2 separate regions of the Homo sapiens genome follow, and region 2 is linked to region 1. Evidence: fine-mapped expression QTL. A gene starts in region 1. The other region holds a variant in brackets. All regions are shown on one strand. Distances are between the middles of the regions. Region 1 holds the start of MMP3 (matrix metallopeptidase 3). Region 2 has its middle 21 kb from the start of MMP1.

Region 1 (12,317 bases):
AATCTCCCTGGGAATTAGTAGCAGCAATAAGATAGGGTGGAGGAGAAGGCCAGCTAACCAACATTAAACCTGGCCACACCACTTGATGGGATTTTTATGCTAACATGGTAATCTGAAAGTCGAGCTTGACTCCACATGTTAGCTCGAGATGTAAGTGACACTGGAGCACTTTGATTTTATATGCATGTATAAGATAAAGTAGCGAGATTTGTGTAATTATCTTTATGGTTCCAAACAAGTTATTTTGTGAAGTAGTTCTATAATGAGTACAAATGTAGGCGAATCAAAATTTTGAGAAGGGAACTGGCCCTAAGAAACACTTGTTATTAAAAAGTTTCAATGCTCCTCTTCCCTCTGATATCATAAAATGTTTCAAGTGCTCTATGGCCAACACAGTAAGTATCCTCTTACCAAATTCTTCAAAAACAGCATCAATCTTTGAGTCAATCCCTGGAAAGTCTTCAGCTATTTGCTTGGGAAAGCCTGGCTCCATGGAATTTCTCTTCTCATCAAATCTGTACCAAGTAAAAGAAACAGCTCAGCATTGCATAGAGGCCATGTTACCGAACATCTTAGATCATGTTAGGTTTAATGTGGAATTTTACTAAACTTTATAAATACTGCAAATAAATGCCAAGCATATTTGGGACTATAGAAATATGTGACTTTAATGGTACTGTAAAGAGTTCTGAAAGCCATATCTCCATCCGGAACAGGGGCCGCATCCTGCTGTATGTAGCACATGCTGTTTGTCATCATATTTCTTAAGCCTGGACAGAAAGAACCTTAATCATCTTTCTGTCACAAAGACATGAAAGTGTGAACATATATATAAAGTGAATTGAATCAACATCTAAAATGCAATTTTAATTCCCTACCACAATTGGCCCATATATGCCTGCTGTCCCCTCCCCTGCACATCTAAATCTTCTCTGGTGGCCTCCTGGGAAAAGGGATTAGGATAAGAAGCAAAGCACAGTAAGTGTGTTTTTAGCCCATTGGCTGGATATCAGATGGTCGGCCTCGATGTCTCAAAGTCTGGCCAAATGACCCAGGAATCAACCTGTCTGTGAGTGTTGGGTTGTATCCATAAACTGGACTGCTATTGATCATCATCTCTTAAATGAGCCATCATTATCAGGTAGAGGTGACAAGTGGGTGAGGTTAGAGGTAGCCCTTGAAAATCATATAGTAGTGTTAGGAAGACAAAACAAACACACAATGAGACAGTGACAAACACACAGTGAGACAGTGAGCCAAACTAAAAGACAATGGGAAGGGAACGCTAAATTGCGGTCTGGGTTCTCAGAACATTTTCCCAATGGGTCTAAAGTCCACGAGGGAAAGCTGCATGGAGGTGATGAGACTTGAGCCAGGACTTGAAGGATGGGCAAGATTTGAATAGGTTGAGGAGAGAAGAGGGGGCTCCAGGCAGGTGGGGTGACAGCACCAAGGGAAGCACCAGCCAACTGCACTTGGGACTGAAAGCAGGAGAGCCTAAGGTGCTGCTGTTTTAAAGTAAGAACTTTCCCACAGTTGTCTGAAGTCCCATCCTTCCTACTAAGAGAGAAGCAGGCCTAAGGTTGGGGTGGGGGATTTCCTTAGTAAAAGAAACTAATTTCCCTAATTAGGCTCCATACAAAGTCATTTCTCTTGCATCTCACCTCCAGTATTTGTCCTCTACAAAGAAATATGTTTTGTTCTTTTCCTTATCAGAAATGGCTGCATCGATTTTCCTCACGGTTGGAGGGAAACCTAGGGTGTGGATGCCTCTTGGGTATCCAGCTCGTACCTCATTTCCTCTGATAGCCCAGAATTGATTTCCTGTTAAATATAAATAATTCAGAGTCATATTGAATTATAACAGTTAAGCCCTTTCGCTTTAGAAATACACTTTAGCATCTTTGATTTTCATGGTAAAGTAGTAGCCCAAATTTTAGATTTAGTCACCAGCTTACAGTGGGCTTTTCACAAAAATTTGCAGACTGAATGAATGAACTAAGGTCAAATGAGAGAATTTACAACTCTGGGTAATTTATCTTCTTGTCTTTATTTTTATCATCTATGAAATATAAATACAATGATATCAGCCCTGGTTATTTCTTCATTACCGTTGACTACTGTATTAGCCAGAACTTGTAGTAGGGAAAATTAAAGTGTTGTTCAATTTCTTATGAGAGGGTTTACTTTGGCAAGTTAAACAAATGATGATATAGTAATTACCTTTAAAAATGAAAACGAGGTCCTTGCTAGTAACTTCATATGCGGCATCCACGCCTGAAGGAAGAGATGGCCAAAATGAAGAGATCAAATGCAATTCAGGTTCAAGCTTCCTGAGGGATTTGCGCCAAAAGTGCCTAAAATATATGTAAAAAGAAATGTAAATTGAAAAACAATCTTTCACCTTTAGAATATTTTCCTCACCGTCTTGCCTCACCCAGCTTCCCCCATTCTCTCATCTTCTAGGCTGGATGACAGATAGAAATCAGGTATATTGCCATTAGAAAATTTCTTTCCTTTTTCTTCAGAAGACTGTAGTGAGTCTCCCGTCATAGGTTTCCAGAGTAATGTCTTCTATGAAAGAAAAATTATTCTATCGTGCAAATGAATTAGCCCAGCATAAGCTTTAATTACCTGCAATGTATGCAAAACAGTGCGTGTGCTATACCCTCTTCCAAAAGCTAGGCCGTGTTTGTATACGTGTATGTGCTGTGTAAATATATTCTTGTATGTGTGTAGAAAGATTCTGGAAGGATGCACAAAAAGTCTTGACTCTGGATGAGTACAGGGAGAACTGGGAACTAAAATTTTTAATTTGCTTCTCATTTGTGCTCTTTGAATGTTTGTCATGTGCATATTGATCCATCAGTAAGTAAATTACTTGATTAAATGTAATGTTGATCCTGATGTCATTTTTAAAGGAAGTAAAAATAAAATTATTATTCGAAAGATCTACTCATGCCTTTTGAAAAGTAACTGTGACTTAAGACATTTGGAAACAGCAATTAGAAGCTAAGAACCAGATCAGCCTGTGCCTTCAAAAATGAACCTGACAATTTTAGGAAAATGTGGGAAAAGGCAGCACCAGATCTAAATGATTCCAAGCTCAGAAGAAACGTTTTTGTTTTAAATGTCTAAGAATCTCTATCAAGTTTCTGCGTGTTTTCCTTTCTAAACATTGTAGATTAAAATGGTAGGAAAATATAATTTTTCAGCCTGACCTGTCTTTAAAGATCAGGATTTCTCCCCTCAGAGTGCTGACAGCATCAAAGGACAAAGCAGGATCACAGTTGGCTGGCGTCCCAGGTTCTGGAGGGACAGGTTCCGTGGGTACCAGGGGGGTCTCAGGGGAGTCAGGGGGAGGTCCTAAAGGGAACATTAGGGGAAATGTGATACGTTTCAATATATGCCCATTTGTATGCTTTCCAAACATTCTCACGGTGCTTTGAACTAAATCATAAATACTTTATGTAGCATTTGAAAGCTCTTCTGAAGACCATCATTGCAAAACTACAATGGCTGATTTTCCCAGTGTCACTCACCATAGAGGGACTGAATGCCATTTATATCATCTTGAGACAGGCGGAACCGAGTCAGGTCTGTGAGTGAGTGATAGAGTGGGTACATCAAAGCTTCAGTGTTGGCTGAGTGAAAGAGACCCAGGGAGTGGCCAATTTCATGAGCAGCAACGAGAAATAAATTGGTCCCTATTTAAGAAATTGAGAACAATAGTTACTTATTTTTTAAATACATGTGCATTACACAGGTCTGCTGTGCATTGTATTGGTTTTTACTTCTTGGAACCACACAGGGCTTTTTACACCTTGTTTGTTGGTTAATTGAACAATTGACTAATTACACACTTAATGGAAAGCTAAGTGTATTTTAAAACTCATACCTGTAATCAATCTTTGAGATTGATTTCCCAGTTACATCCACTTGCCCCCCATGGCCCCAAACCCACCCCCAGCCTCACAAGCATATTAACTCCAGAAGAACCAGATCCCTTTTCTTGTACTCAGGAATGGAATGAACCCACTTGCTTAGCATATCAGATATTTACCTTCATTTGTCAATGCAAAGCTAAACACTGTTTTAATATATTTACATTTGCCATTTGCAGTCTCAGTTAAAGGAAACTATATTCATGTTAATTGATAATGTCTCAGCCTCATCATCATGAAGTACATATTGAGACTAAAAACATGAATAATGATAGATGTCATAGGATTTGCAAAATTGGTTTAAAACACAGTATGCCCAATCATGTCTAGCATTTGTCACACAACAGATTTAGAATACATAAACACTGGCTTTATTCAAAATTTTTTCCTTCATATTTTTAAAAACACCCATAATGCTAAAATTGGGAGGCATTGGGTAATTATGATCAATATAGTAAGTAAATCTACCTTACTTTTGCTAGTATTACTTGTGTAACTTGTGATGCTAGGAACAATCTCATTTGAGAGTTTGCAGGAAGGTTTCTTTACAAGAATTCGTTAACTCAACCAATCAAGAATTCTATCCAGGACTAAACTCACATTTGTACGTCCTACAGAGGTTTACATTTTCATTATAAATCCCAGTTAAACCTCAGACATAGTATTAATTGTTTTCCTATTTTTTTAGAAGTAGTGTTAATTGTTTTAGCTGATTTTTTTGAAAACTTTGGATGTCATTCCCCAAAACATACAGTTATGAACTGAGAAACATTCTTCTACCTAAACAGTTTGAACGTTGTATTTGGGAGTTAGTCTTTTCCTTCAGAACAAGCCCATAAAAATTCTTTTAACCTAAAAGTACTAAAATAATGCCTCAGCCAGAAAAAAAAAAAAAAGAGAATCTCAGTTTCTGAAATTTAATTCTTATTTCTGGTTTGAAGAGTAAAGAAGTAAATGGAGGAAATTACATAAGTAACATCCAGAGCACATTTTAATGTAGATTCAGTGCAATATACTATCCCTTGAATGTTTGTATTTTGATATGAGAAATTTTTCTTAATAATGGTTACCCCTAGATCACAAAGATCCAGTCATTAAAGAAATACTTAATGATATTTCCTATATTGTGCTTACCAATATAGGAAAACTGTTAAAGCATCTGAAAATATTTTCAATAATAATTAAAACAAAAATATATTCTGCTGATCTCTGATCCACTGGAAAATCCAGAACATCTCATTTCTTGAGCATTCTTGGTTATTAACAGATTTCTACATATAAAAAAATTAATGCCAAAATCATTCTGAGAGATGTGTAACTAACCTGTTGTATCCTTTGTCCATTGTTCATCATCATCAAAGTGGGCATCTCCATTAATCCCTGGCCCAGGGGCATAGGCATGGGCCAAAACATTTCCAGGTCCATCAAAAGGGTAAAAGTCTCCATGTTCTAGTAGGAAAAAAATTTATTGGAAAGATATGTAACAAGGATCCCTTTTGAGCCTTTTCCAGTACAACAACACCAGATAGATGAATGGATACATTTCATGTGTTTTTTGTTTTGTTTTGTTTTGCTTTTTTTTTTTTTTTTTTTTTTTTACCTCTAACTGCAAAAGAGATCATTATATCAGCCTCTCCTTCATACAGCCTGGAGAATGTGAGTGGAGTCACCTCTTCCCAGACTTTCAGAGCTTTCTCAACAGCAGAATCAACAGCATCTTTTGGCAAATCTGGTGTATAATTCACAATCCTGTAGGAGAAAAATTGAAGCAGATGCTATTTTCTCCTATGATATAGTTTATAAAATTCCAATCTTATGTGAAAACCCCTCTGAACCATTACCTGTATGTAAGGTGGGTTTTCCTCCACTTCGGGATGCCAGGAAAGGTTCTGAAGTGACCAACATCAGGAACTCCACACCTGGGCTTGCGCATCACCTCCAGAGTGTCGGAGTCCAGCTTCCCCGTCACCTCCAATCCAAGGAACTTCTGCATTTCTCGGATTTTTTTAACAACAGGACCACTGTCCTTTCTCCTAACAAACTGTTTCACATCTTTTTTGAGGTCGTAGTAGTTTTCTAGATATTTCTAACAGAATAAGTATAGTTTTTAGGTCACTCTTACAATTTTTACTATAGCTATCTATTTATAGTAAGTTTTTGCAGTTGCTCACTTCTTAATCTATTTGGAGTATTTCTCTAGCTTGCTGAAATAATGGCAAATTTTATAATATGATACTAGCAACACAAATATTTAGCTAAAATTACGTTGCATTAAAAAAAAAACTGAAGCTGTTCCAAAGCAAGATATGGTTCATCCACTCTCCACTTGTTACTCATGTGCCTTAAGCCCCAGTGCTGCTACTGCTATGGTGTTGTGTGATCTTAAGAAAACACCTAATATTTCTGGCCTTTGTTTCTTCCTACATAAGAGGAGAAGCCCAAATGGTGTGATAATGAGACCTTTTCCACTTCCAACACTCTATAACTCTCTATTCTTGAACTGTTCCTACACAGTAAGCTCAAGCATTCTATGTGGGTTTTAAGACACACAGAATGGTTTCAGCTTACTCTGGAAGCTCCCCACCTGGCCAGGTCAGTTAGTGTTAATTACCTGAACAAGGTTCATGCTGGTGTCCTCACCCCTTGCAGCTCCATCCAATGGATAGGCTGAGCAAACTGCCACGCACAGCAACAGTAGGATTGGAAGACTCTTCATTTCCACTGGCTTTACTTAGCTCTATGTTGTCTCTATGCCTTGCTGTCTTGCCTGCCTCCTTGTAGGTCCAACCTCGGGAGCGCAGCTTTTAAAGAGTGACAGTGTTTGTTTGGATCACCCGCAGCTTGACTCATCCTTGCTTTCATCCAAATGGCAGCAGGACCATTTCCAAACATTCCAAATTCAAAGTAGGATGATACAACCTACTTTACTAATTTCTCTCAACCTTCCCAATTTTGCAAGGCAACACAGTGATTAATCTCCAGGAAGTGCTTCCTGTCTTGGTAGAGGAGAAAACTGGAGCATTTTTTTTCTTCTGGAAAAATTGACTGGAATTCACTAGACAATTTATGTTTGTCCTTTTGAGAGAAGAAGTAGGTTGACTTGGTAAAAATCAGAATTGTGCAGAACTTCTAAAAGCAGTTTTATTTTAAGAAACACATTATAAAAGCAAATAAAAGATGTAAGTGGAAAGTGTACATACATAGCTATAGTCTATACTATATACAATTATACTCAAAACATAAAAGATAATATCTAGAAGAAATTTAGAAGGGGTGATTTATTTTTCTGAATCTGATTTGTAATGCCTGCTATTGACTGTCGTTGGATTTGCTGGTTCTTGAGGAGGAAAACCTCATGGGCAGAATAGAACAAAGAGGGTCTGTGAAAAAGAAGGAAGTATATTCCCTTTGGGTTGGTTTTAATTCTGTAACCAATTTATTAATGGGTGATGGGCCCACGTAGCTGCTCCATAAATAGTTGTAGAATTGAAATGAATTACATTGCTTACCGGACTGAAATTCTCTCTGTCCTTGTCTTCTACACATGTCTTATTCTCTTTCAACCTTTTCCCCTCCTCCCTAAATTCAAATTAGCAGATGCTTTGAAGTTGAAGAACAGAATCCATCCTAAATTTTCTCTTCATGCTCTTCTGTTTTCTTCCTTTCCTTTCTTTTCTGTTTCTTTGTCAAGTAAAGTGTTGCTCACATTATTGGTGTATAATAAATGCTTGAATGCAAGACTCTAAACATATTCAGAGGAAGACATTTTGTAAAACTTTTATAGTCCTCTTGCCACCTGCCACCATCCATCTCCTCAATGCTTCCCTGATCACCACATTTTGTTTGTTCTTTCTTTCTTTGCTGACTTGCTTATTTGTTTGCTAAAGGGAAGAACATCTTGGGAGTAAGAACTCAGTAGAATGATGGATACAAATGTGCATTTATTAGACCTTTAATAAGTGCCCATTTTGCTTCCTCTCATTTATAACTCTTTTGCATTTTCTTCTTTGCTTTATTTTTTGTGTGTTTCTTAATAAACATTGGAGAGATTTTACCCAATAAGTTTAAAGGGATTTCTCTGTGGCAATAAGATCCCTATGACTGAAGATGCCCACACAGTTGATAGCCACTTGGCAGGGGGCTATACATCACATTTAAGCCTTCATTTTTAGACTAGATTATGTCTAAAGACTTTTTCAAATTTTATTTAAAAAATAGAGACAGAGGTTTCACTATGTTGCCCAGGCTGGTTTCGAGCTCTGGGCTCAAGTGATTCTCCTGCCTCAACCTCTCAAAGTGCTAGGATTACAGACATGGGTCACGGCACCTGGCCTAAAGACATTTTAAAACTAGTATTCTATGGTTCTCCATTCCTTTGATGGGGGGAAAAACCATGTCTTGTCCTGATTGAAATACAGGGAAAATATTTGGCCACATTGATATGAGGACAAGGAGAACAGAGTGGTGGCAGTGATGTGAATTCCAGGAAGAAACAGTGGAGCCCAACAGATAAAATATTGAGAGGTTAAAAGTGTAGAAGCTGTGGCAGCTCTAATTCCTTCTATATTAAGGTTTATCCTTTGTAAATTTTCTCTGGAGTTATAACTTATAAAACATATTTAAAGTTTAGAGGAAAGCCTGATAGATAATATGTTTGCTTTTCCAACTGTTAAGATGTGATTGGCAAAATGGGCCATGCTGTTCCTGAACTAAATACAAAAGTTTGCTATATTTTAAAACAGCTTCGACGACTTCCCTGAAAGATGTTTCCCAAGTCCCAGGAAGAGTCATTAATCATTGTTCAATGGTACCTTGTACCTGCCTCTGCTACTCTATTTTCCACACTGAACTGTAGTGAAATGGTTTATCTGTCTCTCTCATTCTAATGTAAGCTACTTGAGGGTATGGACCATGCCTCATTTGATTCTGTATTCCTAGTACTTAGCATGGTATCTGATATATAGTAGGTAACCAAAAATTACTTAGAGAACTAAATAATATATTAGTTATGAGTGAAAGGCTCATAGCAAATGTCAAACAGGTAAATTAAAAGTCAAAAAATCCAAAAATCATGCAGACATTTCTAGATTTGCAGATTCTACATGTCATATATACTAAATACTCTAAAAACTAAATTTTTTAGAAGTTGTATTTCCACAAGAAAAGATCAAGCTATCATCTAAAATCTCTCTAATATATAATTGAAGTCCTCATTCATATGTCTGCAGAACACTCAAACTAATCTTGTAGAACCAGAAGTTTTCTAACCGTGCATGAGACAGTCAAATTGCATTTTGTAGAGTATGTTTTAAAAATCAATGCAGTAATGAGAAGGAATAGGTAAAATTAAAGAGCAACTGAGTGTAAGAAGGAACGGAGGGAGAAGGAGGGAGAAGAGAAAGGGGGAGGAAGATGAGGAGAGGGGAGGAGGAGAGCAAACACTCCAGGTGTAGAGGGAGGAACTGAATACTAGCGGAAAAAAAGTGGGCATTTCCAGCAAGAAATCAAAATGACTGTTCCACAGAACAATCATTTGTTATATGGTTAAATAAATACAAGGGTCAGATAATGGCTAGTTTTATAAATCTGACCTCCCAGGGATCAGCGGCTTAGAATTAAATTTACATTCAATCTAATCCTTGGATTTAAAAACTGGCAGTGATCCCAGGTAACATTCTATCTCGTAACTTTTCACATTTGTCTTCCTATTTGTCACACTTCTCCATGACTAATCAGACATGATTGTGCAGGATCCTTGCTACCTCTAGCTGATAACTGATATAATCATTATTTCAGCTATACATTCATTTATCAAGTATCTGAGTCTCAAGGGCTTCAGAATACCCAAACTAAGAGTATAGATTTGGAGATAAAGTTTAGAAAATTTTAGTAAAAAAAAAAAAGTGAACAAACTAGCTGTTTAAAAGCAGGAAAGAAAGAAGAAAGGAAGGAAGGGAAGGAGGTATAGGAAGGAAGGAAGGGAAGAAGGTAGAGGAAGGAAGAAAGGAAGGAAGGAAGAAAGGAAGGAAGGAAGGAAAAGAGGGAGGGAGGGAGGGAAGGAGGGAGGGAGGGAGGGAAGGAGGGAAGGAGAGAATATAACCTAGCCAAGGAAAGAATCCCCTATATAATTAATTCTATAAGAAATAAGCCTGGTATGGTGGCTCCTGCCTATAACCTCAGCACTTTGGGAGACTGAGATAGGAGGACTGCTTGAGCCCAGAAGTTGAAGACCCACCTAGGCAACATAGGGAGACCTCAGCTCCACGAAAAAATAAAAATAATTAGCCACTTGTGGCAGTGCACACCTGTAGTCCCAGCTATTTGGGAAGCTGAGGCAGGAGGATCACTTGAGCCCTGGAAGTGAGCTGTGATGGTGCCACTGCACTCCAGCCTGGGCAAGAGAGCAAGACCCTGTCTCAAAAAAAAAAAAAAGTAAAAAGTTGTACACGAATTAAGCAGAAGGTGCTTGCTTACTTTAGGTGTTTCCTTTAGAAAAAACTCATAGATAAAGTAGCAGATAAAGTGAGCCTGGAATGATCTGGAAATGGAGGAAAATTGCTTCTTGGCCTTTTGGCTAAGAACAAGGGTGGAAATGGAGGAAAATTCAGTAACAGAGTATACAAGTATGCAGAGTCAAGAAAGACTCTATATGGAAAACGTCAAAGAGTTACTTTTTATTGAAATAAAAGGTATGTGAAGGGTAATAATGGAAAATAAAAAATAAAGTTGTGAAAAGATAGGTTGGAGTCCAGTCATAGAAGACCATTAGTCTGTAGCTAAGGTGCTTAGAGCTTATTCCATTGTTGGTGGAAAGCCATGTGATATGGTCTGGCTGTGTCCCCAACCAAATCTCATCTTGAATTGTAACTCCAACAATTCCCACATGTCGTGGGAAGAACCCAGTGGGAGGTGATTGAATTATGGGGGTGGGTCTTCCCTGCGCTGTTCTCATGATAGTGAATGAGTCTCATGAGATCTGATGGTTTTAAAAATGGTAGTTTCCCTGCACAAGCACTTTTTTTGCCTGCTGCCTTCCACGTAAGACATGACTTGCTCCTCCTTACCTTCTGCCATGATTGTGAGGCTTTCCCAGCCACGTGAAACTGTAAGTCCATATTAAACCTCTTTTTCTTTCCAGTCTCTGGTATGTCTTTATCAGCAGTGTGAAAACAAACTAATACACTAGTTTCTACAAAACATTTTAAATAAATTTTACATACTTAAATAAAACGTTAAATGTTTATTATAGAAAATTTAGAATATATAAAAAAGTACAAAGAAGAAAATAAATCTTTTATAGTCATGACCCAAAAAGAAAAACACTACTAACAGTATTAACTATGTATTTCCTCTAATTTCTTTATACCTGTGTATTCTTTTTCACATCATGCTGATCATGGGAGTTTATAAAATTTCATCTATATTTTCCACAATTTTGAATATCACTAGCTGGACAGAAGTACTAACAAGGCAACATATTCCATCTGAATTATAGGGCCATGTTGCTCAGACTGGTTTCAAATTCCTAGGCCTGAGTGATTTGCCCACCTTGGCCCCGCAAAGTGCTAAGATTACAGACATGAGCCACTATGCCTAACAATAAAATATTTTGATACTGGTATGCAATATGTAGCAATCACATTGGGGTAAATGGGGGTATTCATCACCTCAAGCATTGATCACTTCCTTGTGTTACAAACATTCCAACTTATTGTTTAGTTATTTTAAAATGTACAATAAATTGTTGACTGTAGTCACCCTGTTGTGCTATCAAATACTATATAATATTCATTCTAACTATATTTTTGTACCCATTAACCATACCCACTCCCACTACCCCCCACTACACTTCTCAGCTACTGGTAACCCTCATTCTACTCTCTATCTCCATGAATTTAATTGTTTTAATTTTTAGATCCCACAAATAAGTGAAAACATGTGAAGTTTGTCTTTCTGTGCCTTGCTTATTTCACTTAATGTAATGTCCTCCAGTTCCGTCAATGTTGTTGCAAATGACAGGTCTCGTTCTTTTTCATGGTTGAATGGGACTCCACTGTGTATATGTACTATGTTTTCTTTATCAATTCATCTGTTGACGGACACAGGTTGCTTCCAAATCTTGGCTATTGTGAATAGTGCTGCAGTTAACATGGAAGTGTAAATATCTCTTTGACATGTTGATTTCATTTCCTTTAGATAAATATTCAGTAGTGGAATTGCTGGATCATATGGTAGGTCTATTTTTAGTTTTTTGAGAAACTTCCGTACTGTTGTCCATGGTGGTTGTACTAATTTACATCCTCACCAAGGATGTATGAGGGTTCCCGTTTCTCCACATCCTTGCCAGAATTTGTTATTGCCTGTTTTTTGGGA
Region 2 (12,317 bases), 24 kb before region 1:
GGCCTGATAGACTCCTACTACTTCTTCACACCCAGGATCAAGCATTGCTGCCTTGCCAAACTTATTCATTCATTCAACAAAAGTTTAATGAGCATCGACTAAGTCAGGGGCTTGATGCTGGGCATCGTCCAATGTGCCCATGTGGGATGCATTCAAGTGGACAGCTGCAGTGGGCTGTGTGTGAATGGACGCACATAAGAGGAGGAATGAACACAGCCAGTAGGCAGAGTTGGCAAGGTCTCAGAATGTCCCCAAAGATGGTAACCCCTGAGCTGGGTCTTCAAGTGCAAGACAAATAGGAGAACAGTGTGATCATTTTCATCAGGAACCATTTGATTGGAAGGCAATCCTTCCATTCGGTTGGAATGCCAAACTGAATTAAAGGGAGGATTATTTTAAAGAACCAGAGGAATCTGATGGAATCCATTAATGAGAAGCACTTTGAAGGGAGGCACTGGGCAAGTGGAGTTAGATTTCTTAGAACCCTCCACCAGCTTTCCTCACTGGTCTTTAACTCATTTCTCACCACTCAGAACACTATCATTCCTGTTACCATCTGGGTGGGGCAGAGCATTCAACTGTTGCAATTCAGCCAGGTACATGACTAATTTCTAGACACATCTTGGGTAGTCTGAACGTGAATAACAGATTGTAGGCCTTCTTTTCTTTTCTCTTTTCTTTTCCCTCCCTCCCTCTCTCTTTCTCTCTTTCTTTCTTTCTCTCTTTCTTCTTTCCTTCTTTCTTTCCTCCCTTCCTTCCTTCCTTCTTTCTACCTTTCTAATTATACTTTAAGTTCTAAGATACATGTGCAGAACATGCAGGTTTGTTACATAGGTATACATGTGCCATGGTGGTTTGCTGTACCCATCAACCCGTCATCTACATTAGATATTTCTCCTAATGTTATCCCTTCCCTTGCCCCCAACTCCCCGACAGGCCCTGGTGTGTGATGTCCCCCTCCCTGTGCCGATATGTTCTCATTGTTCAATTCCCACTTATGAATGAGAGCATGAGGTGTTTGGTTTTCTGTTCCTGTGTTAGTCTATGGAAAATGGTGGTTTCCAGCTTCATTCATATGCCTGCAAAGGACATGAACTCATTCTTTTTTATGACTGCATAGTATTCCGTGGTGTATATGTGTCACATTTTCTTTATCTAGTCTATCATTGATGGGCATTTGGGTTGGTTCCAAGTCTTTGCTATTGTGAATGTGCTGCAATATACATACGTGTACATGTGTCTTTATAGCAGAATGATTTATAATCCTTTGGGTATATACCCAGCAATGGGATTGCTGGGTCAAATGGTATTTCTGGTTCTGGAACCCTGAGGAATCGCCACACTGTCTTCCACAATGGTTGAACTAATTTACACTCCCACCAACCGTGTAAAAGTGTTCCTATTTCTCCACATCCTCTTCAGCATCTGTTGTTTCCTGACTTTGTAATGATTGCCATTCTAACTGGTGTGAAATGGTATCTCATTGTGGTTTTGATTTGCATTTCTGTAATGACCAATGATGACGAGCTTTTTTTCGTATGTTTATTGGCCCCATAAATGTCTTCTTTTGAGAAATGTCTATTCATATCCTTTGCCCACTTTTTGATGGTTTTTTTTTTCTTGTAAATTTAAGTTCCTTGTAGATGCTGGATATTAGCCCTTTGTCAGATGGATAGACTGCAAAAACTTTCTCCCATTCTGTAGGTTGCCTGTTCACTCTAATGATAGTTTCTTTAGCTGTGCAGAAGCGCTTTAGTTTAATTAGATCCTGTTTGTCAATTTTGGCTTCTGTTGCCATTGCTTTTGGTGTTTTAGTCATGAAGTCTTTGTCCATGCCTGTGTCCTGAATGGTATTGCCTAGATTTTCTTCTAGGGTTTTTTATGGTTTTAGGTCTTTTATTTAAGGCTTTAATCCATCTTGAGTTAATTTTTGTATAAGGTGAAGGAAGGGGTCTAGTTTCAGTTTTCTGCATATGGCTAGCCAGTTTTCCCACAATAGGGAATTCTTTCCCCATTGCTTGTTTTTGTCAGGTTTGTCAAAGATCAGATGGTTGTAGATGTGTGATATTACTTCTGAGGCCTCTGTTCTGTTCCATTGGTCTATATATCTGTTTTGGTATCAGTACCAAGCTGTTTTGGTTACTGTAACCTTGTAGTATAGTTTGAAGTCAGGTAACGTGATTCCTCTAGCTTTGTTCTTTTTGCTTAGGATTGTCTTGGCTATTTTTGGTTCCATATGAAATTTAAAGTAGTTTTTTTCTAATTCTGTTAAGAAAGTCAATGGTAGCTTGATGGGGATGGCATTGAATCTATATATTACTTTGGTCAGTATGGCCATTTTCGTGATATTGATTCTTCTTATCCATGAGCATGGAATGTTTTTTCATTTGTTTGTGTCCTCTCATTTCCTTGAGCAGTGGTTTGTAGTTCTCCTTGAAGAGGTCCTTCATATCCCTTGTAAGTTGGATTCCTAGGTATTTTATTCTCTTTGTAGCAATTGTGAACGGGTGTTCACTCATGATTTGGCTCTCTGTTTGTCTATTATTGGTGTATAGGAATGCTCCTGATTTTTGCACATTGATTTTGTATCCTGAAACTTTGCTGAAGTTTCTTATCAGCTTAAGGAGTTTTTGGGCTGAGATGATGGGTTTTCTAAATACACAATCACGTCATCTGCAAACAGACAATTTGACTTCCTCTCTTCCTATTTGAATATGCTTTATTTCTTTCTCTTGCATGATTGCCCTGCTATCTTTCAATATTGCCCTGCAATAACTTTCAACACTATGTTGAATAGGAGTGGTGAGAGAGTGTATCCTTTGTCTTGTGCTGGTTTTCAAAGGGAATGCTTCCAGCTTTTGCCCATTCAGTATTATATTGGCTGTGGGTTTGTCATAAATAGCTCTCATTATTTTGAGATACGTTCCATCAATACCTACTTTATTTAGTGTTTTTAGCATGAAAGAGTGTTGAATTTTATCAAAAGTCTTCTCTGCATCTATTGAAATAATCATGTGGTTTTTGCCATTGGTTCTGTTTATGTGATGGATTACATTTATTGATTTGCGTATGTTGAACCAGCCTTGCATCCCAGGGATGAAGCTGACTTGATCATTGTGGATAAGGTTTTTAATGTGCTGCTGGATTTGGTTTGCCAGTATTTTATTGAGGATTTTCGCATCGATGTTCATCATGGATATTAGCCTAAAATTTTCTTTTTTTGTTGTGTCTCTGCCAGGTTTTGGTATCAGAGTGATGCTGGTCTCACAAAATGAGTTAGGGAGGAGTCCCTCCTTTTCTATTGGAATAGTTTCAGAAGGAATGGTACCAGCTCCTTTTTGTACCTCTGGTAGAATCCGGCTGTGAATTTGTCTGATCCTGGGCTTTTTATGGTTGGTAGGCTATTAATTACTGCCTCAATTTCAGAGCTTGTTATTGGTCTATTCAGGGATTCGACTTCTTCCTGGTTAATCTTGGGCGGGTGTATATGTCCAGGAATGTATCCATTTCTTCTAGATTTTCTAGTTTATTTGCATAGAGGTATTTATACTATTCTCTGATGGTAGTTTGCATTTCTGTGGGATCAGTGGTATTCTCCCTTTATCATTTTTTATTGTGCCTATTTGATTCTTCTCTTTTCTTCTTTATTAGTCTTGCTAGTCGTCGATCTCTTTTGTTAATCTTTTCAAAAAACCAGCTCCTGGATTCTTTGATTTTTTGAAGGGTTTTTTTGTGTCTCTATCTCCTGCAGGTCTGCTCTAATCTTAGTTATTTACTGTCTTCTGCTAACTTTTGAATTTTTTGCTCTTGCTTCTCTAGCTCTTTTAATTGAGATGTTAGGGTGTCGATTTTAGATATTCCTGGTTTTCTCGTGTGGGCACTTAGTGCTATAAATTTCCCTCTTAACACTGCTTTAGCTGTGCCCCAGAGATTCTGGTACATTGTGTCTTTTTTTCTCATTCGTTTCAAAGAACTTATTTATTCCTACCTTAATTTCGTTATTTACCCAGTAGTCATTTAGGAACAGGTTGTTCAGTTTCCATGTAGTTGTTTGGCTTTGAGTGAGTTTCTTAATCCTGAATCCTAATTTGATTGCACTGTGGTCTGAGAGACTGTTTTTTATTATTTCCATTATTTTGCATTTGCTGAGGAGGGTTTTACTTTGAATTATGTGGTCAATTTTAGAAAAAGTGCTATGTGGTGCTGAGAAGAATGTATATTCTGTTGATTTGGGGTGGAAAGTTCTGTATATGTCTATTAGTTCCACTTGGTCCAGAGCTGAGTTCAAGTCCTGAATATCCTTGTTAATTTTCTGTCTCCTTGATCTAATGTTGACAGTGGGCTGTTAAATTTTCCTGCTATTATTGTGTGGGAGTCTAAGTCTCTTTGTAGGTCTCTAAGAAGTTGCTTTATGAATCTGGGTGCTCCTGTTTTGGCTGCATATATATTTAGGATAGTTAGTTCTTCATGTTGTATTGATACCTTTACCATTATGTAATGCCCTTGTTTGTCTTTTTTGATCTTTGTTAGTATAAAGTCTGTTTTATCAGAGACTAGGATTGCAACCCCTGCTTTTTTTTTTTTTTTTTTTTTTTTTTTTTTTTTTTTTTTTTGCTTTCCATTTACTTGGTAAATATTTCTCTATCCCTTTATTTTGAGCCTATGTGTGTATTTGCATGTGAGATGGGTCTTCTGAATACAGCGCACCAATGGGCCTTGACTCTTTATCTAATTTGCCAGTCTGTGTCTTTTAATTGGGGCATTTAGCTCATTTACATTTAAGGTTAATATTGTTTTGTGTGAATTTGATCCTGTCATTATGATGCTAGCTGGTTATTTTGCCCGTTAGTTGATGCAGTTTCTTCATAGTGTAGGTGGTCTTTACAATTTGGTATGCTTTTGCAGTGGCTAGTACCGGTTTTTCCTTTCCATATTTAGTACTTCCTTCTGGAGCTCTTGTAAGGCAGGCCTGATGGTGACAAAATCCCTCAGCATTTGCTTGTCTGTAAAGGATTTTATTTCTCCTTCACTTATGAAGCTTAGTTTGGCTGGATATGAAATTCTGGGTTGAAAATTCTTTTCTTTAAGAATGTTGAATATTGGCCCCCATTCTCTTCTGGCTTGTAGGGTTTCTGCAGAGAGATCCACTGTTAGTGTAATGAGCTTCCCTTTGTGGGTAACCCGACCTTTCTCTCTGGCTGCTCTTAACATTTTTTCCTCCATTTCATCTTGGTGAATCTGATGATTATGTGTCTTGGGGTTGCTCTTCTCAGGGAGTATCTTTGTAGTGTTCTCTGTATTTCCCGAATTTGAATGTTGGCCTGTCTTACTAGGTTGAGGAAGTTCTCTTGGATAATATCATGAAGTGTGTTTTCCAACTTGATTCCATTCCCCCGTCACTTTCAGGTACACCAATCAAACGTAGGTTTGGTCTTTTCACATAGTCCCATATTTCTTGGAGGCTTTGTTCATTCCTTTTTATTATTTCTTCTCTAATCTTATCTTCATGTTTTATTTCATTAAGTTGATCTTCAATCTCTGATATCCTTTCTTCCACTTGATTGATTTAGCTATTGATACTTGTGTATGCTTCACGAAGTTCTTGTGTTGTGTTTTTCAACTCTATCAGGTCATTTATGTTCTTCTCTAAACTGGTTATTCTAGTTAGCAGTTTCTGTAACCTTTTATCAAGGTTCTTAGCTTCCTTGCATTGGGTTGGAACATGTTCTTTTAGCTTGGTGGAGTCTGTTATTACCCACCATCTGAAGACTACTTCTGTCAATTCATGAAACTCGTTCTCCGTCCAGTTTTGTTCCCTTGCTGGCGAGGAGTTGTGATCCTTTGGAGGAGAAGAGGCATTCTGGTTTTTGGAATTTTCAGCCTTTTTGTGCTGTTTTTTCCTCATCTTCGTGGATTTATCTACCTTTGGTCTTTGACGTTGGTGACCTTTGGATGGG[G/T]TTTTTATGTGGGTGTCCTTTTTGTTGATGTTGATGCTATTGCTTTCTGTTTGTTAGTTTTTATTCTGACATTGAGGGCTCTCTTCTGCAGGTCTGCTGGAGTTTGCTGGAGGTCCACTCCAGACCCTGTTTGCCTAGCTATCACCAGCAGAGGCTGCAGAACAGCAAAGATTGCTGTCTGCTCCTTCCTCTGGAAGCTTCGTCACAGAGGGGCACCTGCCAGATGCCAGCAGGAGCTCTCCTGTATGAGGTGTCTGTTGACCCCTGCTAGGAGATGTTTCCCAGTCAGGAGGCATGAGGGTCAGGGACCCACTTGAGGAGGCAGTTTGTTCCTTAGCGGAGCTCAAGCACTGTGCCGGGAGATCTGCTGCTCTCTTCAGAGCTGACAGGCAGGAATGTTTAAGTTTGCTGAAGCTGTGCCCACAGCTGCTCCTTCCCCCAGGGGCTCTGTCCCAGGGAGATGAGAGTTTTAATCTATAAGCCCCTGACTGGGGCTTCTGCCTTTCTTTCAGAGATGCCCTGCCCAGAGAGGAGGAATCTAGAGAGGCAATCTGGCTGCAGTGGCTTCACCACACTGGTTTCACACCCAGTTCACTTCCTGGTGGCTTTGTTTACACTATGAGGGGAAAACAGCCTACTGGAGCCTCACTAATGGTGGATGCCCCTCCCTGCACCAAGCTTGGGCGTCCCAGGTCGACTTCGGACTACTGTGCTGGCAGTGAGAATTTCAAACCAGTGGGTCTTAGCTTGTTGGGCTCCGTGAGGGTGGGATCCGCTGAGAAGACCACTCGGCTCTCTGGCTTCAGCCCCCTTTTCAGGGGAGTGCATGGTTCTGTCCCGCTGGTGTTCCAGGCACCACTGGGGTACAAAAAAAAAAAAAAAAAAAAAAAACTCCTGCAGCTAGCTTTGTGTCTGCTCAAATGGCCACCTAGTTTTGTGCTTGAAACCTAGGGCCCTGGTGGTGTAGGCACCTGAGGAATTTCCTGGTCTGCGGTTTACAAAGACCATGGAAAAGTGTAGTGTCTGCTCTGGAGTGCACTGTTGCTCATGGTACAGTCCCTGACGGCACAGTCCCTTATGGCTTCCCTTGGCTAGGGGAAGGAGTTCCCCAACCGCTTGTACTTCCCAGGTGAGGTGACGCCCCACCCTGCTCCTGCTTACCCTCCGTGGGCTGCATCCATTGTCTAACCAGTCCCAATGAGATGAACCACGTACCTCAGTTGCAAATGCAGAAATCACCCAGCTTCTGCATTGGTCTCACTAGGAGCTGCAGACCAGAGCTGTTCTTACTCGGCCATCTTGCCTCTCAGTCTCAGGCCTTCTTTATTTTTTGACTTATTTTACTTACTTACTCATTTTCTGTAAGGAAATCTGGATTATAACATGTTCCTTTCATTAGAGACTTTAGATTATGAGGAATAATCAACACCTTCAAATACATTTACTTTTTATCCAAAGACCTTAAAACTTCACCCTCAGGAAGCCCATGGCTTGGGTTCCAGGACACAGTTTAATACAGATGGCAGGTAATCAGCTGATTTTTCCCCCTCCTCAAGTACTGGCTTCACTTTGACATGGTATTTTACGCTGCCCTCCTGGGACCCCCACCACCAATTCCACATATCCTCTGAGGGTCTGTGGCTTGCCAACCCACTTTTAACTTATGTCTAAGCCTAAAATCTTTTTGTTGGGAGATCATTTACAGGGGATTTATAGTAAGGAACTTGAGGATTCTCATGGGATCTAATCTCAGGACAGCCTTCTTGAGAAATGGAAAGATTACAAGCTCTGTCTCTGTCTCTCATTCTCTCCCCCATCCCTCTGCCTTCTCTGTGTTTCTCTCTTTTTCTTACATAGACTTAACCTGAATGTTTGCTATTTTTTCTTTCTGTAGGCTCCTTCAAACTGATGCTCCCCCTCCGTAACATCAGCCTGTGTGTGACTAGGACTTGCTATGGTTCTAATTCTGGTTCCAATCCTAGTTCATCTTATGAATTTGATCATGGACATGTGTTCTGGGTCTATCATTTCTAATTCTGGGAAAGAGCACATGACAGGCTCTGCTTTATTCTTGTGTTCATCTCTAATCCAATCAACTAGAGCCATACTGGTGAGGTTGCTGGTACAAACATTATTGTCTAGGTCTGCCATATCCATGGGGACTTTGGAGGACATGTCAGAGAAGGAAAAACAAATAGGCATGCATAACAAACATATCATTCACAATATTCTAGGCAGTGGGTACAGCGACCTTGAGGGCTGGAGAAAGAAGAGAGCTTGGTACATATAGGGAAATTCAAGTGGTTCAGAATGGCTGGAGTGTAGCATTTGGGGTAGGAGATAATAAGAGATGAGATGGATCAGTAACCAGGGCTGGAATTATGAAGGGCTTTGATACCCTGCTAAGGAGTCGAAGTAGATAAAAAGTCAGGTTTTCTCTCCTTTCTTGGCTTTTACATCCTATACCATCTATTTGGAAGAGATACCACCCCTCCTTTCCTTGACTTACTAAGCATTTGCCCTTTGGGTCTCAGCTTAAATGTACCTTTTCGAAAATCCTTCCCTGATCTCTGAAGCCTGGTTAGTTGCTATGTGTTTCCCCAGCTCTGTGTGCCTGCACTAAATAGTACTCATATCCTGTAACCTGCTTGCCTGTTCACTTTTCTCTCTCTCCTGCTAGAGTATAAGCAGGAATCCTGTCTGAATATATCTTTTATCCATAGCGCAGTGCCTGGCAATCACAGACATTCTGTAAATGTCCTGTTTAAGGAATGAATACATCAATGAATGAATGAGATGGACACAAATCAAGCAACCTCAAGTATCCCTTTCCTTGCTTGAGGTTAAGCCTGGCCTTGCTTCTTAGTTAGACTGACTGAAGCCCTCTCAGCCTCTAATCCTTGAGGAATGAAGACCCTCCTGCAGATTCTCTGGTCCCAACCTGGGGACTCTGAATATTCTCCCCAGACACCACTCTCTTCCCTGCTCCTTCCTCTGGAAGCTTCATCCCAGAGGGGTGAGAAGGGTTTTAAAAAGGGGTTTCCCTGCACAGGCTCTCTTTGCCTGCTCCCATCCATGTAAGACATGACTGCTCCTCCTTGCCTTCTGCCATGATTGTGCCAGATGCCAGCCGGAGCTCTCCTGTATGAGGTGTCCTTTACACCTGCCCACTTCCTACATGATCAATCTAGATTAGTTTCCTAATGTCATTCTGTATTTTGCCATCTTAATCCTTTCTCTTTTCCAATCACTTCTCCCTCATTTCCTTCCTTGAGAAAGGAAATAAACTTAAATAGTCCTCCACTCATTGGCTGCGCATCCTAGGAGCATCTATGAAGAGTTCACACTTTTCTGTCCCAAACTGTCCATCTTACCAGCACATCACATGTATATAAACATTGAATATATGTATATAAATGTATATATCTATATATAAATATTATAATTCCTACTGTTGACTCTCACAAATATCAACAAGCAGCAACCTATAATTATAGATTATACACATACAATCTATATATAGGTTATATAGATTATATATAATATATGCTATCCTGCTTTATTCCATTAATGATTGTGGTGTTGCATTCTATTACAAAGGAAGAGTGGCAAAATATGAACTTATATTGTAGATGTTTTCTAATTCAATATTGAAATGCCTCAAGACTCAGTCCTTGGATCTCTTCACTTCTTTTTTCTTACTACATTGTTAAACTCATCCATTCTCAAGCCTTAAAATCATCTATGTGCTGATAACTCCCAAATTTATGTCTCCAATCCAGGCCTTTTCCCTAAACTGCATACTCCTATATCCAACATCTCTACTTGGATGTCAAATAGACCTCTCAAACACACAATGTGTCCAAAATGGAACCTCTAATCTTGCCCCAACTCCCTGCTCCACCCACAGCCTTCCACGTTTCAGGTGATGGCAACTTGGCAGCTTCATCCTTTCAGTTGCTCAGTCCAAAAGACTTGAAGTCATCCTAAACTCCTCTCTCTTTCTCACACTTCCCAGCCAGTCTGTCATTAAATCCTGCTGGTTCCACCCTCTAATATATCCTTCTCTCCATTTCCACTGTTCCCGTCCTGATTGGAGTCACCATCCTCTCTTGGCCGGAATACTGCAGTAGCTTCCTCATAGGTCTCTGTGAATCTACCCTTTCTCCCATACAATCTAACCTAGCAGAGCACCAGAGGCTCTTCTGCTCCACACCTTCCAATGCCCACCCCCATTTCACTCACAGTGAAAGCCCGTGTTTATATTGGCCCAATACCCCCACTCACTTTGCCTTCCACCTCAACCCTTATCCCTGGGACTTTATCTTCTAGCACTTCCACTCCCCTCCCACCTTTTGATTGTTGTAAGTAGTCCTCTTGCTGTCCTTTGACCATCATGATCACACTCCATCTTAGGATCCTCCACTCTAGCTGTTATTCAGGCTGGAGTGCTTTTTTCCTAGATTCACTTGGCAAGCTCTCTCGCCTTCTCCCAGTCTTTGTTCAGATATCATCTTCTCCACGAGGCTTACTTTGAGCACCCTACTGCAACTGTCACCACCCCAAGCCCTCTTTGCTTGCAATCCCAACCTCACTCTACTTTTTCTATTTTCCATTGTACTTATCTCCTTCTAATATATGACATAAGTTATTTATTTGCTATTATCCGTCTCTCTTGTTTGAATGCAAGTTCTAAGAAGACAAAGATCTTTGTTTTTTTCACTGATTGATATGGTTTGGCTGTGTTCCCCTGACAAATCTCATCTTGAATTCCCACATGTTATGGGAGGGACCCAGTGGGAGGTAATTGAATCATGGGGGCAGGTCTTTCTTGTGCTGTTCTCATGCTAGTGAATAAGTCTCACAAGATCTGATGGTTTTAAAAAGGGGAGTTTCCCTGCACAAGCTCTCTTTGCCTGCTGCCATCCATATAAGACATGACTGCTCCTCCTAAGCTTCTGCCATGATTGTGAGTTCTCCTCAGCCATGTGCAACTGTAAGTCCATTAAACCTCTTTCTTTTGTAAATTGCCCAGTCTTGGGTATGTCTTTATCAGCAGCATGAATATGAACTAATACACTGATTTATCAAAGCTCTTAGAAGTGCTTGGCATATAATGAGTGCTTAGTGAATATTGTCGAAAGAATGAATGAATGAAAAAGCAAATTAATATCTCCTACCCTGTCTGCTCTTTATGTATCTCCATATCAGTGGTATAATTCTCAATTGTGAGCTCCCGAAAGGTAGAAAGCATTTTTGTCCTTTCTTAGCAGAGCAGGATTTTGACCTAAATTTCTGCAAACTATAGTCTTATGGTTATGACTCTTTTTGTAAGTTGATCACTCATTCACAAGGATGTAATTTGCATCTGATTAATCACAAGACTGATGTGGTCTCAGAACATTGAGAAAAAGACTACTTCATCTACCTGACAGTCAAAGGGTAACACATTAGGACTTGAGAGATAATAAATTCAAAGGAAGTTCACACACAGAAAAATTTAAGATTAAATTGTCATTTTCAGATAAATTTGTTAGGGATATTGGTTCAGTATTCTGCAGCAGATGCATAAAATATTTCCATGCCTTTAAGAATCCATTTGTAGTCTCAGATACCACATGTGTTCCAGGAGTGTAGATGTCCTGCACAGTACTCTTTTATGAGTCACTCAAGCTTCTCCTGTGGCATCAGATTTTGCAGTGATTTTGTAATGGACATTTCCTAATTGAGAAATTATCAGCTATTTTTGAATTATGAAATGGCTACATTACTTAGAAATAGGCCCTTGGGTGCACATGAGATATTTCATTACCAGGCGTAAGATTTATTTTATTAATAGAAAAATAATATAAAATGTCACTTAAAGGATCTTATCAAAATTATGAACCTTCCACTTCTGAATGTCTGTATTATACATCCATTCCTAGGTCACCTAAACTTACCCCTTTGACTCAACCTGCTACAAAGAGCCAACCACTTCCTCTACTCCAGCTGTTTCTTTATTCCAACTCTTGCCCTATTATGTCACTCAGTCTGTTCTTTGCTCTATCTCTTTTGCTCTTAATCACATTTATAGGCTGTATTAGTTCATTCTTATGCTGCTAATAAAGACATACCCAAGACTGGGAAATTTATAAAGGAAAGAGTTTTAATGGACGCATAATTCCATATGGCTGAGGAGGATTTACAATCATGGCAGAGGGCAAAGGAGGGGCAAAGGCTTGTCTTACATGGTGGCAAGCAAGAGGGCATGTGTAAGGGAAGTACTCTTTATAAAACCATCAGATCTCATGAGACTTATGCACTGTCGTGAGAATAGCATGGGAAAAACTCACCTCCATGATTCAGTTACCTCCCAGT

Evidence for each region. PIP is the estimated chance that this variant, and not a neighbour inherited with it, causes the effect.
Region 2: its variant is fine-mapped to the expression of MMP3 in nasal epithelium (TOPMed, PIP 0.93).

Annotation. Positions count from the first base shown.
Region 1 is chr11:102,836,887-102,849,203 of GRCh38, forward strand. MMP3 (matrix metallopeptidase 3) reads right to left here and starts at 6,723. Exons shown (of 10, transcript NM_002422.5): 1 at 6,556-6,723; 2 at 5,786-6,030; 3 at 5,545-5,693; 4 at 5,268-5,393; 5 at 3,543-3,707; 6 at 3,222-3,366; 7 at 2,224-2,357; 8 at 1,665-1,824; 9 at 412-515. The coding sequence starts at 6,660. RefSeq lists an enhancer at 1-85.
Region 2 is chr11:102,813,113-102,825,429 of GRCh38, forward strand. It overlaps the pseudogene WTAPP1. Among named protein-coding and RNA genes, the nearest start is that of MMP1, 21 kb to the left of the region's middle. The variant G/T (reference allele first, on the strand shown) is at 5,958.